Linked DNA regions of Homo sapiens: region 2 is linked to region 1. A link means that fine-mapping ties the variant in region 1 to the expression of a gene that starts in the linked region. Tissue or cell type: whole blood. Region 1 holds a variant in brackets; the other region holds the start of a gene. All regions are shown on one strand. Distances are from middle to middle.

The links. PIP is the estimated chance that this variant, and not a neighbour inherited with it, causes the effect.
Region 2: it holds the start of DCTN2, and the variant in region 1 is fine-mapped to the expression of DCTN2 in whole blood (TOPMed, PIP above 0.99).

What each region holds. Positions count from the first base shown.
Region 1 is chr12:57,503,941-57,511,940 of GRCh38, reverse strand. MARS1 (methionyl-tRNA synthetase 1) reads right to left here. Exons shown (of 21, transcript NM_004990.4): 11 at 7,642-7,716; 12 at 73-243. It also overlaps the pseudogene LOC124903093. Among named protein-coding and RNA genes, the nearest start is that of MIR6758, 4.7 kb to the left of the region's middle. The variant C/A (reference allele first, on the strand shown) is at 3,370.
Region 2 is chr12:57,543,452-57,551,579 of GRCh38, reverse strand. It overlaps DCTN2 (dynactin subunit 2), which reads left to right and starts at 4,388. Exons shown (of 14, transcript NM_001261413.2): 1 at 4,388-4,552; 2 at 5,484-5,552. The coding sequence starts at 4,517. KIF5A (kinesin family member 5A) reads right to left here and starts at 1,536. Exons shown (of 29, transcript NM_004984.4): 1 at 1,180-1,536. The coding sequence starts at 1,308. RefSeq lists enhancers at 609-1,201, 4,120-4,259 and a silencer at 1,470-1,809.

The DNA of each region.
Region 1 (8,000 bases):
TCAGCAGTCTACTCTGCTAGCCCAGGGTTTCAACACTAAGGCTGAATGATATGAATAAAAAAGGGTTTTTACCTTGTCTTCAAAACCTTCTAAGGGTACAGGGGTTCCCCATTTGAGGTCTCGGGTTATGCAGCGTGGCTTGAGGCCATCCCGAAGCCAAGAACGGGTGATAAACTGGGCATTGGGTGTCCAGTCACTGCCAGGCAATGTCCTCCCCAACCACTCCTCCAGTCGCTTCTCCAGCTGAGATAACGGAGAAAGAGGGCTGATTTAGGAAAGTCTCATATATGGTTAGCATAAGGATAAACACATATAACCTTTTTGGAGCACAATTTGGCAATATATAACTTTTTTTTTGGAGACAGAGTCTTGCTCTGTTGCCCAGACTAGAGTGCAGTGGTGCAATCATAATCACAGCTCACTGCAGCCTAAACCTCCTGGGCTCAAGCAATCCTCCTACCTCAACCTCCCCAGTAGCTGGGACCACAGGTGCACACCACCATGCCAGACTGTAATTTTTGTAGAAACAGGGTTTTGCCACATTGCCCAGGCTGGTCTTGAACTCCTGAGCTCAAGCAATCTGCCCACCTCAGCCTCCAAAAGCGCTGAGACTACAGTTGTGAGCCACCCTGCCCAGCCTTAACTAGATTTTTAACACACAGCCAGGGGCAGTGGCTTGCGCCTGTAATCCCAGCTACTCCGAAGGCTGACGCAGGAGGATCACTTGAGGGCAGGAGTTCATGACCATCCTGGGCAACACAGCAAAATCCTGTCCCTAAAAAAAATTTTTTTTTTTTTAATTTTTAAAAATATGGAACACTTCACAAGTTTGCATGTCATTCTTGTGCAGAGGATGTGCTAATCTTGTCCATATCAGGGTCTCACTGTCACCCAGGCTGGAGTACAGTGGCACATCATGGCTCACTGCAGCCTCAACCTCCCAGGCTTAAGTGATCCTTCCACCTCAGCCTCCTGAGTAGCTGGCACTACAGGCACGTGCCACCACACCTGGTTAATTTTTGTATTTTTAGTAGAGATGGGTTTCACCAAGTTGCCCACCCTGGTCTCAAACTCCTGGGGTCAAGCAATTCTCCCGCCTCAGCCTCCCAAAGTGTTGGAAGTTGGAATTACAGGCATAAGCCACCGTGCCCAACCAATTTTTTCTTTTTTTAAATACAGACAGGGTCTTGCTTTGTTGCCCAGGCTACTCTCAAACTCCTGGCTTCCAGCGATCCTCCTGCCTCAGCCTCCCAAAGTGCTGGAATTACAGGCATGAACCACCATGGCCAGCTGAGGAAGTGCAAAAAAGAAAAAAAAAATTTTCTTTTTTTTTTTTAAGGTAGGGTGTCACTCTGTTGCCCAGGCTGGTCTTAAACTCCAAGGCTCAAGCAATCCTCCAGCCTTGGCCTCCCAAAGCATTGGGATTACAGGTGTAAACCAGCATGCCCAACCAAAAAAAAATTTTTTTGAGCTGGAGTCTTGCTCAGCTGCCCGGGCTGGAGTGCAGTGGCACGATCTCAGCTCACTGCAACCTCCCCACCTCCAGGTTCAAGCGATTCTCCTGCCTCAGCCTCCTGAGTAGCTGGGACTACAGGTCGGTGCCACCACGCCTGGCTAATTTTTGTATTTTTAGTAGAGATGGGGTTTCACCACGTTGGCCAGGATGGTCTCGGTCTATTGACCTCATGATCCGCCTGCCTTGGCCTCCCAAACTGCTGGGATTACAGGCGTGAGTCACCATGCCTAGTCAATTTTTTTTTAATCAGCCAGGCATGATAGTACACGCCTGTAGTCCCAACTACGCAGAAGGCTGAAGCAAAAGGATAACTTGAGCCCGAGAGTTTGAGAGTGCGGTGAGCTGTGATTGTGCCACTGCACTCCAGCCTGGGTGACAGAGTGAGACCCTGTCTCTAGAAAAAAATTTTGTTTGAACACACTTGGCTATATACCCTTAGTCTAGGGGAGGAATCAGGATTGCCAACAAATCCTAAACTCTTTTTAATAGGTTATTTTTTTTGTAGACGTACCAGCAAAGCAATTCTGAAATTGTTTTAGGTATATTGTAGGATTGAGCTAATAAGTAAATGTGCTGATGCCTATTGAGAACCAGGACACCTACAGTGGAAGAAGGTAGATAGAGACATGAAATAAATAAGAGAAAGTGACGAAGAACTCTGTGGGGATGGACTGAAATTGCAGGTGTCAGTGTGAACTTAAAATAAATACCAACTGGCCAGGCACGATGGCTCACGCCTGTAATCCCAGCACTTCGGGAGGCCAAGGCAGGCAGATCACCTGAGATCAGGAGTTGGAGACCAGCCTGGCCAACATGGTGAAACCCTGTCTCTACTAAAAATACAAAAAAAATTAGCTGGGTGTGGTGGCAGGTGCCTGTAATCCCAGCTACTCAGGAGGCTGAGGCAGGAGAATCGCTTGAATCCTGGAGATGGCAGTTGCAGTGAGCCAAGATAGTGCCACTGCACTCCAGCCTAGGTGACAGCAAGACCCTGTCTCAAAACAAACAAACAAACAACAAAAAACAAATACCAACTCTCTTTGATAAAAGGTCCTAGTAGCAAAGACACCCAGTAGCAATGAGCACATCTACCACCTAGATTTTGGTATCTAATACTGTTCCCTACTAAATTAAACTCAAGGTTGGTGACATGGTTGATTTCAAGGCTGAACCAGATGAACCTAGAGTATTTTTTTATGCCACAAATTAAGGAAGTGTTTAAAACATGATGGGAGATCTCAAAAGCAGACAAGCCACCTTGAATACGTTCCTACTGATGAAATAAGTAACAATTTGAACATGAAAATAAATTTAGGACAGGAAAGGATTATAAGAAATTGAAAAAAATAGGAATCCATGAGTCTATACTGATAATAAATAGTTAACTAAATTAAAAAATAAATGGAGGGAGAAGGATAAATATAGAGAGTAGTGGTAGAGTTGGAAAATCACCATAATAAAGATTGATTCAGGTAAGAATGATCAATGAATGCTACATTTATAGGGAATATTTTGTTCACGAAGAGCAAAGTATTGCATGGTCTTTAAAGTGTATTCCCTCAAGGCTGGGCGCAGTGGCTTACACCTGTAATCCCAGCACTTTGGGAGGCTAAGGCGGGTGAATCATTTGAGGTCAGAAGTTTGAGACCAGCCTGGCCAACATAGTGAAACCCCATCTCTATTAGAAATACAAAAATGCTCTCCCTCTACCCTCTACCCTCTACCTCTACCTCTACCTCTACCTCTCCCCACGGTCTCCCTCTCCCTCTCTTTCCACGGTCTCCCTCTGATGCCGAGCCGAAGCTGGACTGTACTGCCGCCATCTCTGCTCACTGCAACCTCCCTGCCTGATT[C/A]TCCTGCCTCAGCCTGCCGAGTGCCTGCGATTGCGGGCGCGTGCCGCCACGCCTGACTGGTTTTCGTATTTTTTTGGTAGAGACGGGGTTTCGCTGTGTTGGCCGGGCTGGTCTCCAGCTCCTAACCGCCAGTGATCCGCCAGCCTCGGCCTCCCGAGGTGCCGGGATTGCAGACGGAGTCTCGTTCACTCAGTGCTCAATGGTGCCCAGGCTGGAGTGCAGTGGTGTGATCTCGGCTCGCTACAACCTCCACCTCCCAGCTGCCTGCCTTGGCCTCCCAAAGTGCCGAGATTGCAGCCTCTGCCGTGCCGCCACCCAGTCTGGGAAGTGAGGAGCATCTCTGCCTGGCCACCCATCGTCTGGGATGTGAGGAGCCCCTCTGCCTGGCTGCCCAGTCTGGAAAGTGAGGAGTGTCTCTGCCCGGCCGCCATCCCATCTAGGAAGTGAGGAGCGCCTCTTCCCAGCTGCCATCCCATCTAGGAAGTGAGGAGTGTCTCTGCCCGGCTGCCCATCGTCTGAGATGTGGGGAGCGCCTCTGCCCCGCCGCCCTTTCTGGGATGTAAGGAGCGCCTCTGCCCGGCCGCCGCGTCTGAGAAGTGAGGAGACCCTCCGCCCGGCAGCCGCCCCATCTGAGAAGTGAGGAGCCCCTCCGCCCGGCAGCCGCCCCGTCTGAGAAGTGAGGAGCCCCTCCGCCCGGCAGCTACCCCGTCTGGGAAGTGAGGAGCGTCTCCGCCCGGCAGCCACCCCGTCCGGGAGGGAGGTGGGGGTCAGCCTCCGCCCGGCCAGCCGCCCCGTCCGGGAGGGAGGTGGGGGGTCAGCCCCCGCCCGGCCAGCCGCCCCGTCCGGGAGGGAGGTGGGGGGCCAGACCCCCGCCCGGCCAGCCGTCCCGTCCGGGAGGGAGGTGGGGGGCCAGACCCCCGCCCGGCCAGCCGCCCCGTCCGGGAGGGAGGTGGGGGGCCAGACCCCCGCCCGGCCAGCCGCCCCGTCCGGGAGGTGAGGGGCGCCTCTGCCCGGCCGCCCCTACTGGGAAGTGAGGAGCCCCTCTGCCCGGCCAGCCGCCCCATGCAGGAGGGAGGTGGGGGGGGGGTCAGCCCCCCGCCCGGCCAGCCGCCCCGTCCGGGAGGTGAGGGGCGCCTCTGCCCGGCCACCCCTACTGGGAAGTGAGGAGCCCCTCTGCCTGGCCACCACCCCGTCTGGGAGGTGTACCCAACAGCTCATTGAGAACGGGCCATGATGACAATGGCGGTTTTGTGGAATAGAAAGGGGGGAAAGGTGGGGAAAAGATTGAGAAATCGGATGGTTGCCGTGTCTGTGTAGAAAGAGGTAGACATGGGAGACTTTTCATTTTGTTCTGTACTAAGAAAAATTCTTCTGCCTTGGGATGCTGTTGATCTATAACCTTACCCCCAACCCTGTGCTCTCTGAAACATGTGCTGTGTCCACTCAGGGTTAAATGGATTAAGGGCGGTGCAAGATGTGCTTTGTTAAACAGATGCTTGAAGGCAGCATGCTCGTTAAGAGTCATCACCACTCCCTAATCTCAAGTACCCAGGGACACAAACACTGCGGAAGGCCGCAGGGTCCTCTGCCTAGGAAAACCAGAGACCTTTGTTCACTTGTTTATCTGCTGACCTTCCCTCCACTATTGTCCTATGACCCTGCCAAATCCCCCTCTGCGAGAAACACCCAAGAATGGTCAATTAAAAAAAAAAAAAAAAAAAGACAAAAATTAGCCAGGCATGGTGGTATGTGCCTGTAATCCCAGCTACTCGAAGGCTGAGACAGGAGAATCACTTGAACCTGGGAGGTGGAGGTTGCAGTGAGCTGAAATCACAACACTGCACTACAGTCTGGGCAACAGAGCGGGACTCCATCTCAAGAAAAGAAAAAAATAAAGTGTATTCCCAGACTGCTCATAAGTTGCAATGGGGAAAATATTAATCACACAGTGAACAAATTGAATAACACCTGACCAAACAAAATTAAGATTCCCAGTGAAGGGGATGGCCATCACGTGGCTCTGAAAAGGACACAATGTCATTTATGTAGTATTCCAACCAAGAATGCATAGCCTGAAATCATGAGGAAACACCCAACAAACCCAACCTGAGGACTATTATATTTTATGTATTTATTTATTTTTGAGACAGGGTCTCACTTTGCTGCCCAGACTGGAATGCAGTGGTACAATCATGGCTCACTATAGCTTCCAGCTCCTGGGCTCAAAGCAACCCTCCTACCTTAGCCTCCCAAGTAGCTGGGGCCAGAGATGTGCACCACCACATTTGGCTAATTTTTTCTTTTTTTCTTTTTGATACAGAGTCTCAGTCTGTCACCCAAGCTGCAGTGCAATGGTTCAATCATGGCTCACTGCAGCCTCAAACCTTCCCAGGTTCAGGTGATCTTCCCACCTCAGCCTCCTGAGTAGCTGGGACTACAGCTGCTCACAACTCACCCAGTTAACTTCTGTATTTTTTGTAGAGATGGGGTCTCACCATGTTGCCCAGGCTGGTCTCAAAGTCCTAGGCTCAAGTCATCGGCCCACCTAGGTAGCCCTTGCAAAATGTTAGGATTAACGCGTGAGCCACTGCACCCAGGCCAGGTTAATTGTTTCACTGTTTGTAGAGTCAGGGTCTTGCCATGTTGCTCAGGCTGGTCTCAAACCCCTAGGCTCAAGCAATCCTCCCACCTCAGCCTCCCAAAGTAATGGAATTACAGGAGTGAGTCACTGCATGTGGCCTTTAATTTTTTTATGCTTTAGAGATAGAGTCTCACTCTGTTGCCCAGGCTGGAGTATAGTGGCACAATCACAGCTCACTGTAACCTCAAACTCCTGGGCTCAAATGATCCTCCCACCTCAGCCTCTTGCATAGCTGAGACTACAGGATCGCACCACCATACCCGGCTAATTTTTCAATTATGTTGTAAAGACAGTGTCTCACTATGTTTTCCAGGCTGGTCTCCAACTCCTGGCATCAAGAGATCCTCCCACCTCAGCCTCCTAAAGTGCTAGGATTACAGGCATGATAAGCCACTGCGCCCAGCCTATTTTTTTTTTTCTCCAAGCCCAGGGTACAGAAGGAGGAACACTGTATTTTAAAAAGGAGGTCAGGCTGGGATGGTGGCTCACACCTGTAATCCCTGCACACTGGGAGGCCGAGGTGGATGGATTACCTGAGGTCAGGAGTTCGAGACCAGCCTGGCCAACATGGTGAAACCCCATCTCTACTAAAAATACAAAAATTAGCCAGGCATGGTGGCAGGCACCTGTAACCCCAGCTACTTGGGAGGCTGATGCAGAGGAATCGCTTGAACCTGGGAGGCAGAGGTTGCAGTGAGCCGAGACCGTGCCATTGCACTCCAGTGTGGGCAACAAGAGAGAAGCTCCATCTCAAAAAAAAAAAAAACAAATCAGGAGGTCAATGCTGGACACAGTTGCTCATGCCTCTAATCCCAACACGTTTGCAGGCAGAGGCAGGAGAACTGCTTGAGCCCAAGAGTTTGACACCAGCCTGGGTAACACAGTGAGAACCCATCTCTACAAAAGCATTTTAAAAATTAGTCAGGTGGCCCAGTGCGGTGGCTCACACCTGTAATCCCAGCACTTTGGGAGGCTGAGCCAGGCAGATCATCTGAGGTCAGGAGTTCGAGACCAGCCTGGTCAACATGGCAAAACCCTGTCTCTACTAAAAATACAAAAATTAGCCGGGCATGGTGGCAGACGCCTGTAATCCCAGCTATTCTGGAGGCTGACGCAGGAGAATCACTTGAACCCAGGAGGCGAAGGTTGCAGTGAGCCAAGAGTGCGCCATTGCACACCAGCCTGGGCGACAAGAGCGAAACTCTGTCTCAAAAAAAAAAAAAAAAAAAAAAAAATCAGTCAGGCATGGTACTTGGGAGGCTGAGGTGAGAGGATTGCTTGGTCCTAGGATATCAAGGCTGCAGTGAGCTATGATCATGCCACTGCATTCCAGCTTAGGTGACAGAGTGAGAAGCTATCCCTTAAAAAAAAAGAGAGACATAAAAATACTTTTATATGCATATGACATTTCTGAATAGACACAAAGGAAAAAGTAGTAAATACCTCTCGCAAGTGGGCCTGGGGCTTTCACTTTGTGCCCTTTAATCTATTTCATCTCTTGACAATAGTATGTACAATTCTTAATGGAAATTTAAAACTTTTAAGAGTAATCTGCTCTCAGTATTTGTGGCTAAGGCAGAGGGGACAGAAGAGGCCTCCTGAAAACTAGGTTGAGAGAAAAGCTCACTTACCTTAGGCAGGTCCAGAAACAGGTGCTGGCTCGACTGCACCACAGGGCATGATCGGCAGACTTTACACTGAGGCTTCTGCGAAGGAAAATTCCAGAGGACAGATCAGGCCTGCAGGCCAGGGGAGGGGTCCAGGCAAGGGGAGGAGCAGAGAAGGATTAGCTCCTCAGTCTGCCATCTAGTTTAGCTTCAGGCTCACACTCCAATAACTCTACTATGTGGCCTACTCTAAACATGGAGACTCAAATCTTCTCAGTATAACTCCATTTGTTCTCAGAGTTTCAGATCTCTGTCCCATCACACCAGAGTAAAAAAAACATTCTCTGAACATAGGCTAGGTACAGAGCACTGCACTGTACTTG
Region 2 (8,128 bases), 40 kb before region 1:
CAGCACCCCTCAAGCCCTACAGGACTCGACCCCAGATCTTTTCTCCCCACACACAGCCTGAGGTCCCTACCAACCTCAGGGGGAGTGGGCAAGGCCTAGAATTTCCCTTTGGGCCATTACAGATAAAGGTGCAGAACAGAAACCTGGGTAGGCAATGTGATAGAAGAGATGGGAGGTTTGCAGTCACAGATTTAGGTTCAGATCCATGGATGAATAGCATGACCTTGAGAAAGTTATTCAAGTTCTTTGGGCCTCAATTTCTGCATCTGTAAAATGGAAATATTGATACTACTTCTGAATGTTGTTTTGGGGGTTAAATAATATACGTAGAGTAACAGGCCCACTGTTAATATTAGTTCCCTTAAGATATCCTCCTTGGGTAGGGCTGTCATGATGAGGTAGAGCTGGATGGCTACTTTCTATTGGATCCTCAAGAGAAAGGATGAATAAGCAGGTACTGACTAGGATCTCAGGGTTTGGGCATTTTTCTTTAGGGGGGTCAGTTGGGGAATCTGAAACCCTCTTCCTACTGTACCTGGGACCAAAAGGCAGACCTGACCTTAGGATTCCAGAGGCTCCCCCCAAGATTGGGTGTGGCATCAATGATTTCTTTCCCAGTAAACCCTGCATCAGACCTACTCCCCACAACACACACACAAAAATCCAGGCTATAACTACTTTAGGGAATGATGGAAGGTTTGGTCTTAGAGCCCACTTCCATCCACACTCTGCAGAGACCCTGGACTGCTCACCTCCCATCTAATCCACCCAAAAGTCTTCCGCCTTACCTTCCGGGAGGTGGGGGTAGAGATCTGAGCCAATAACAAAGGGAAGATGCGCTTTCTCTTGGGGAGCGGGTGGTGGAGAAGGGGAAAACATCAGAAAAACATGGGACTGGTTCTAACGGGTGGAGACGCTGCAGACAGCAGCAAAGGGGAGTTGGATCTCCCGAAGGTAGGAAAGCAGCCCCCTGCCACTCTGCAGAGACTCGGCCGCTGGCCTGGCCAGGCCACACCCAGCCATCCTGATGCAGGGGAGAGGAGGGGCTGCGGGGAAGAGGATGAAGGATGAGCGGCGGGGAGGGGGAGCAAAGGGACCAGCAGAGACTAAGGCTCTGCGGGGGGCGGGGAGATTCAGCCACCTGCCCCCTCCCCGAATTCCCTCCTGGGCGACACTCACCCCAATAACGACGCTGTCGTCCCCTTGGAAAATGGGGATGAACTTGTCTCCCCGCAGAATCTCAGCCTGGTTCAGGGGCCGGAATCGGCAGAGCACCTTGATGCTACATTCGTTGTTGGTCTCCGCCATGGTGGTAGCCGGCGTGGGGCTGGGACTCTTCTTGGGCTGCAGGGGTGGTGTGTGCTCCAGAGGAGAGGGCTCTCAGCAGAGGCCGAGGCGGAGGACAGGTGCTCAGTCTCTGGGGACAGAGTTGAGGGCGCCCGGGCGAAGCCTGGGGAGCAGGGCCGGGGCGCGCTGTCTCTCTCCTGCGGCAGCGGGATGCGGGCGACCTGGGCGTCTGGTCCTTTCGGGCTCTCTGCCTCTCCGCCCCTCGCGCTGCAGCGCCGCGCTGCGGGCCTGGGCGGGGCCGCGATGGAGGAGCGGGGGCGGGGCTCCCTCCACTGGGGACGCTGGCTCGACGTCGACCCCCGAAGGGTGGAACCTCACCGCTCCTCTCCTCCCTCCCCCACCCCTAACGTTCGGAGATAACCTTGCCCTCGACCCTTCCCCACCCAACTCACTGCATCCCACCCCTATACCCCCGACCTGTTTGTCCCTCCCTCAGACTCCACCCCCTGGAAGGGATAAGGGGACTGAGGTGGGCCTGTCGCCTGTGTAGCGAAAAGGGTCAACAGATCTCCCTCTCCCTTTATTCCAGGGCATCCCCCAACCCGTCACAGTCCTCTCTCCAAACTGGGATCACACTTCTCATTCTCCCCCTACGCCCATCCCATGCCCCACATGCACGGAAGCTGGACTCCCAACCCACTCAGCTTTCTGGGGGGACCCCTGCCTGTACTCCTATGAAGTTGGGTGTCGTGGGAGGTTCTGGCTACTCCCTTCCCCTTCCACATCCAAAGGTGCACTATACTGTCTCCCCAACGTACACACCAGGTCCCCAGTTTCAGGGAAGATAAACTCCCATTCTGGGTTATGGGAATTCAAAAGCAGATACAATACTTATTTTTGTGTCCTAGGCTGAGGATGGGAGGAAGATGGGTGGGAAACATCTTTGCAAGAGAAAGGGAGTCAGAAAGCAGTGAAGGAGGGGCAATGATGGGGATGGGTAAGGCCAGAGAGACTTTGAAGTCTGAGGCAAAGCCGGCATTTGGGTTTCAGGCAAATTCAGATACCTACGGGAGTGTGTGTTTTCTGTCTCAGTAACCATTGGAGGATAGAGTCCCAATACTTCAGCCCCCTTCCCTGGCCAAAAAAAAAAAGGTGTGGGGGAAGAAAAACGAAAGAAATGCCAAGCCCAGAGATTCCTTGTCCTTCCTTCCTTTGGGTCAGACTCCTGCTGCAGCCCCTGGAAAGAACCACCAAGAAGCTGGCCAAATTGATTTTTCTCCATGTCACAGGCCTCTGCTGGCCAACAGAGAGTTGGACTGCAGGAGTTGAGGTTCTAGGCAAAGAGGAAGGGCAGGGTGGATGGGAGAAGGAGGAGGAAAGGAAAGTTCTGCTCAGCAACTGTCTGGTGAGTGGTTAAGGTCACTTAAGACACTATGGGACAAAAGTAAGAGGCTGATAGCCTGGCCAGACAAGACCTAACTATTCAGAACTCAGGGGGTTTCCCACATTGGGGCTACACCTCTAACCTACCTTGAATCTTAAGGGAACTGAAAGAAAAGAGTCCAACATAAGGAATGGGACAGGAAAGCTGTAGGACTATGGAGAAAGGGATAGAGGCTTGGGGAGGAGCCAGGAGAAAGAAAGACAACGAGTTCCGAACTCAGGAACTCTCTAGTCACTTGGTTTGGCACAATTTCTAAGTGTTGCAGCATCCTGCAAGCTCAGGAAACATCCTGGGAAACATCCCATCCTTGGGTCCCCAGGGGCTCCAAGGTGGCATCTTTAGTAAAGGGGTTTCAAAATGCCAGTCCATGGAGGGTCACTGGTCAGAGACAAAAGTTCACTGAGTATGCCCTCACCTCCAAAAGAACAATGGTGAGTTTTTTTTTAATATAAAGATGGATTTGATAAGTTTCAAAGGACTATCTTTTATTCTGAGTGTGTCCTTCTTGCTTTTCTACCAAGTAATGATGGTGACAGTAAATAATAGGTTTTCTATTTGTAATATACTTACTTGATAAAATAAAAAGGCAAATCTTCAAGGTTTGTAGTTGTTTTAATTTTATTGAACGATGAAATTTAAAAGTCTGAGAACGGAAGGTAAGGTTGGTGAATAGGTACAAAAAATTAGAAAGTATAATAAGACCTACTATTTGATGGCACAATAGGGTGACTATAGTCAAGAATAACTCAACTGTACATTTTAAAATAACTTAAAGAGTAATTGGATTATTTGTAACTTAAAGGATAAATGCTTGAGAGGATGGATACCCTCTTCTCCATGATGTGCTTATTTCACATTGCATGCCTGTATCAAAATATCTCATGTGTCCCATAAATACATACACCTACTGTGTACCCACAAAATTGAAAAAATTGAAAAATAAATAAAAGTCTGAGAACTATTAACGAAGTAGTTAAGAGCCCAGAGAGTGTTCAGACAGACATGGAGACACCACTTACCTACTTATGAACTTCAGATAGAATTGCCAGATTTGAAAAACAAAAAACAAAAACAGGATGCCCAGTTAAATGTGAATTTCAGATACTTAATTTTTGGGGGGTTAGTATACCCACACACCACACACCACACACACACACCTACTTATTATCTGAAATTCAAATTATCTGAAAGCCCTTACTTGAGAAGATTGCCTAACTTTTTCATTCCTAACATACACTACGCGTTTACTAAATTTTACTTCTTGTTTTTATTTTGTTTTTATAATACACAGTATCAAGCAAACTTCTTGTTTTTGAAACCCCGGCTGTGTCACAGTATGACTACCTGTATCATTTAATCTAGTCATTTTATTCCTGGGAGCCCCAAACAGGAATTATAAATGTTCTTTCACTGACTTGCTGTAAAAGTGAGAGAAAAGGCTGTATGAAATAGCTCCCCAAGGTTCGTTATTGTCGCTCCCCGCCCAAGCTCCAGTACACCAAAACTACACATCCCACAATCCTAGGCGGCGTCCCCTGGCCATTACCTCATTCCCTGGCCTCGTTCTCCCCAATCCCGGCCTCTCCAGGGGTGTGGCAGCAGGGCTGTTCTCGCGACTTTTGCTTTACCCTTCTGCTGTGCTACTGCTGTCGCGAGACTTCCTGCTCATCTGCCGCTCCCTTTGCCGCCGCCTTAGCCCGGGACCCGAACCCAGCCTCTCCCCTACCCGAACACCGGCCCCGGCTCCACCGAGGCCCGGGTCCCCCAGCCCGTCTCGCCGCCGCCATGGCGGACCCTAAATACGCCGACCTTCCCGGCATTGTGAGTACAGGACCGGCCCCGGCTCCCCAGGACCGCGCCCCCGACCTCCCAAGGACCCCCAGCAGAAACCAGCCCGCGACCCCTCCCGCCTGCAGCCCATCCTCCGCCCAAGGGCTCCCGCCGCTCGTTCTCCGATCGGCCTCAGCACCCCCCGAACTCTTCTGACCCGACTGGGCCGGGCCGCCGGACGGCGCACCAGGCCCCCTTTCCGGCAGTCGCCGGTAGCTCGGCCCAGAAATCGACTCCGGGTACTGACCTCTTGTGCCTGAGTTTTTCCACCATCCGTGTCAACGCCTCCCATGTCCCCCCCAAATCTCTCCATAAGACCCCATCGCTACCCCAGACACACACACCAGACCACTTAACGATGGCCTTCATCCTGCCAAGGAAGAGGTTCTGCCATCTGGCAGAACCCTCTTGTGCCAGATGGGGAGCTCTATCCTTGAGGGAACCTATGCCCTCCCCCAGCCCCCACTCCCATGACAATCCTGGCGTGTACCTTCCTTTTGTGCTGCCCTGCCTGCTTCTCAAGGTGAGGGTTGGGACACAGGACCTTGAGTACTAAGGTCCTGAGTCACTCTCAATCCTTGTGCCAGGGTGGTGGTGTACGGGGCCTAATTGGAGGATAGCCTTCACCTTCTTTGGCAATAGTGATTGCCAAGGACCTGCCCGCCTCTAGATTTAGGGTAACATCGTTGCTATCACTTACACTCACCGTTTACTGTCAGGTCCCAATTGTTTCCGCTGTCATCCCTACCCCTTGAGACATGGGAACTGACATACTGTTGACTCACGGGGCAGGTGGAGGAGAAAGGACAGAACCCTGACATCACACCCCGCCTTCTCTGTTAGCTTATTCAAATGGAGTGGGGGAAGGGGTGTTGTTGGATGCTGGGTAGTGAGGTTGGGTGGTCACTGCTTCTACCTGCAGGCCAGGAATGAGCCAGATGTTTATGAAACTAGCGACCTACCTGAGGATGATCAAGCGGAGTTCGATGCGGTAAGAATGTGTGCTGCCACAGACTCCTCCGGACTCTGACCTTTCTCCCCTAGACAGGTCCTTCCCTTTCTCGGGGGAGCTACAGCAATAAGCGGGTATGCCAACCCCAGCCTGGGTGGTATATAGGTTGCAGGGCTTGCAAAGACCTTGCTGGGCTTGCAGCCACCAATGAGCAATGGCAGGAGGGAGAGTCAAGTCAGCGGAATTACAGCTAACAACATCTGTTTGCAAAGCCCTGATTCTTGGGCCTTTTAAATAAAATTGAAATATCTCAAAACAGGTTTGGAGCTAGTGACTTAGGCCCCTGGGTTCTAACCCATGGAAATGAATCATGAAGCCTGGGCACTTGTAATAAACTGCTACCAAGAACTAGACTTTGAAATATGGAGAAATACTTTTTCCATATGAATATCCAGTATCCATTGGGCAAGGAATTAAGAAAGTGATTCCAAGATTTTAGAGCAAAACAAATTTGAGGAAGAATGTAAATATTTCACATCAGCGGATGTGAGACTGTGGTTGCATTTTTAGATCCGAGAATTCTGAGGATGGAGTAATTAGGTACGGATACATTTTAACTGTGAGGGGAAACATTTAGTATGGTTTATTGAGTGTGTTCATTCTGTGGTTTTTTTTGTGCAATGCAGAGGAAGAAATGTCTCTGCCCCCAATGAGCCCCAGACTAATGGGGAATTAGGATACATATAGGAAACATATAGAAGGAAAAAAAAATTGAGTGAATGGAAATCAACATAGTAAAAACTCTGTTTAAGTGCCAAGAGGTGTGTTTATAGGATGTGTTTTAGGTTCTATTATTTCTGAAGACAGCTGGGCTGGGATCACATTGATGATGTGAGTTCTCAGTAAAGATGTGTCCAAGAGTCATTGCAATATGCAGGCTCAGTATGCTTGTCTGTAAGTCCTGTGGCTATGTCTGTGGGGCTGGTTAATTCTGGGGAATGCTGACTGCTGGCTTACAATGTGTGGCTTGGCGTACTCACTTATTTCTTATTTGACTCCCCCATGTGGAAGTGGTTCTTACATTGTGGGAAACACCTTCTCTGTCCCTTCTCCCAGTGGTGTGTTCCTTGTGGCTTCTGTATTTGCTGGCATGCCAATCTATCCCCTAAGCTTGAGTATCTTGGAGATAATGCAGATGATGTTGTTGCTCAAGGACCTGGGTGTGCACCTGTCACTCCAAGAGGCATCTTATAGGAAGCTGCCTCTGTCCTCACAGAATAGGAGTGTATACAATCGGTTCTCTGTATTTATGGGTTCCAAACCCATGGATTCAACCAATCACAAATGGAAAATATTTTTTAAAAATAAAAAATAGGCCCAGTGTGGTGATTCATGCCTGTAATCCCAGCACTTTGGGAGGCTGAGGCAGGTGGATCATTTGAGGCCAGGAGTTTGAGACCCCGTCTCTACTAAAAAATATAAAAATTAGCAAGGCGTGGTGGCGAGCGCTTATAGTCCCAGCTACTGTGGAGGCTGAGGCAGGAGAATTGCTTGAACCTGGGAGGTGGAGGTTGCAGTGAGCCGAGATTGCGCCACTGCACCCCAGCCTGGGTGACAGAGCAAGACTCCATCTCAAAAAAAAAAAAACCAGTACAACAATAAAAAAAAAAACAAAATTTAAAAATACAATATAACAACTATTTACATAGCATTTACATTGTACTAGGTATTTTAAGTAATCTAGAGATGATTCAAAGTATACAGGAGGGTGTAGGTAGGTTATATGCAGTTACTATGCCAATTTATATAGAAGATGGGAACATATGCAGATTTTGGTATCAAGGGAGGTCCTGGAACCAGTCTCCCACAGTTGCCAAGAGACAGCTGTATGCTGAGAACTTTACTGCACTACCACAGTTCAGACTGTTCAACTTAGGCCTAGGCTTCTGCCCTTCATGGTGAGATAATGAATAGAACTCAGTCCTTTTGTCGCTGTGATACAAACAGGTAGTTTCACAGTAATCCTCTTTCTAAACAAAAAAATACATATTGTCATTCCCTTTTGAAGATACTGGGATATCTCTTAATAAAAAGGAGATGACACCCATTCCAGGTGTGGAAGAACCTGACTGTGCAGCTCTGATTGGCTGTTTCTCCCCCAGAGCCTGAACAGCCTATTTTAGTAGCATCTAGTGGGGTGGCTGATGAGGAGAGGATACTGTGAGTGTTCATTTCCTGTGGCATGTTGCCCAGGATGCCAGTATAGAAGTGCATATGAGCTGAATGGCAAATACAAGAAGAGCTGAATTGTTTCTGTCACCTAAGGCTCAGCTAAGTGACTCTCTGTCACTAGGGAGGAATGGGGTGGGCAGACCTTCAGCCACTTCAGGGGCCCGAAGAGCCAAGATGTTTCCTGATGTCAGCTAATGTCTCTGGCCCCCGCATGTCCCTATGGGGCTTGCAGCTTTTGGGAAGTCAGCTGAGTAATGGCTCTGCCACTGCTTTTAATACTGACGTAAATATGCAATTTGAGGAGCAGTGAATTGTATGCTTAGATAATCTAGAAATGTCATGTCCGTGAGGCCTGGGATCTCACCAGCAGCCTGTCTGTTTCC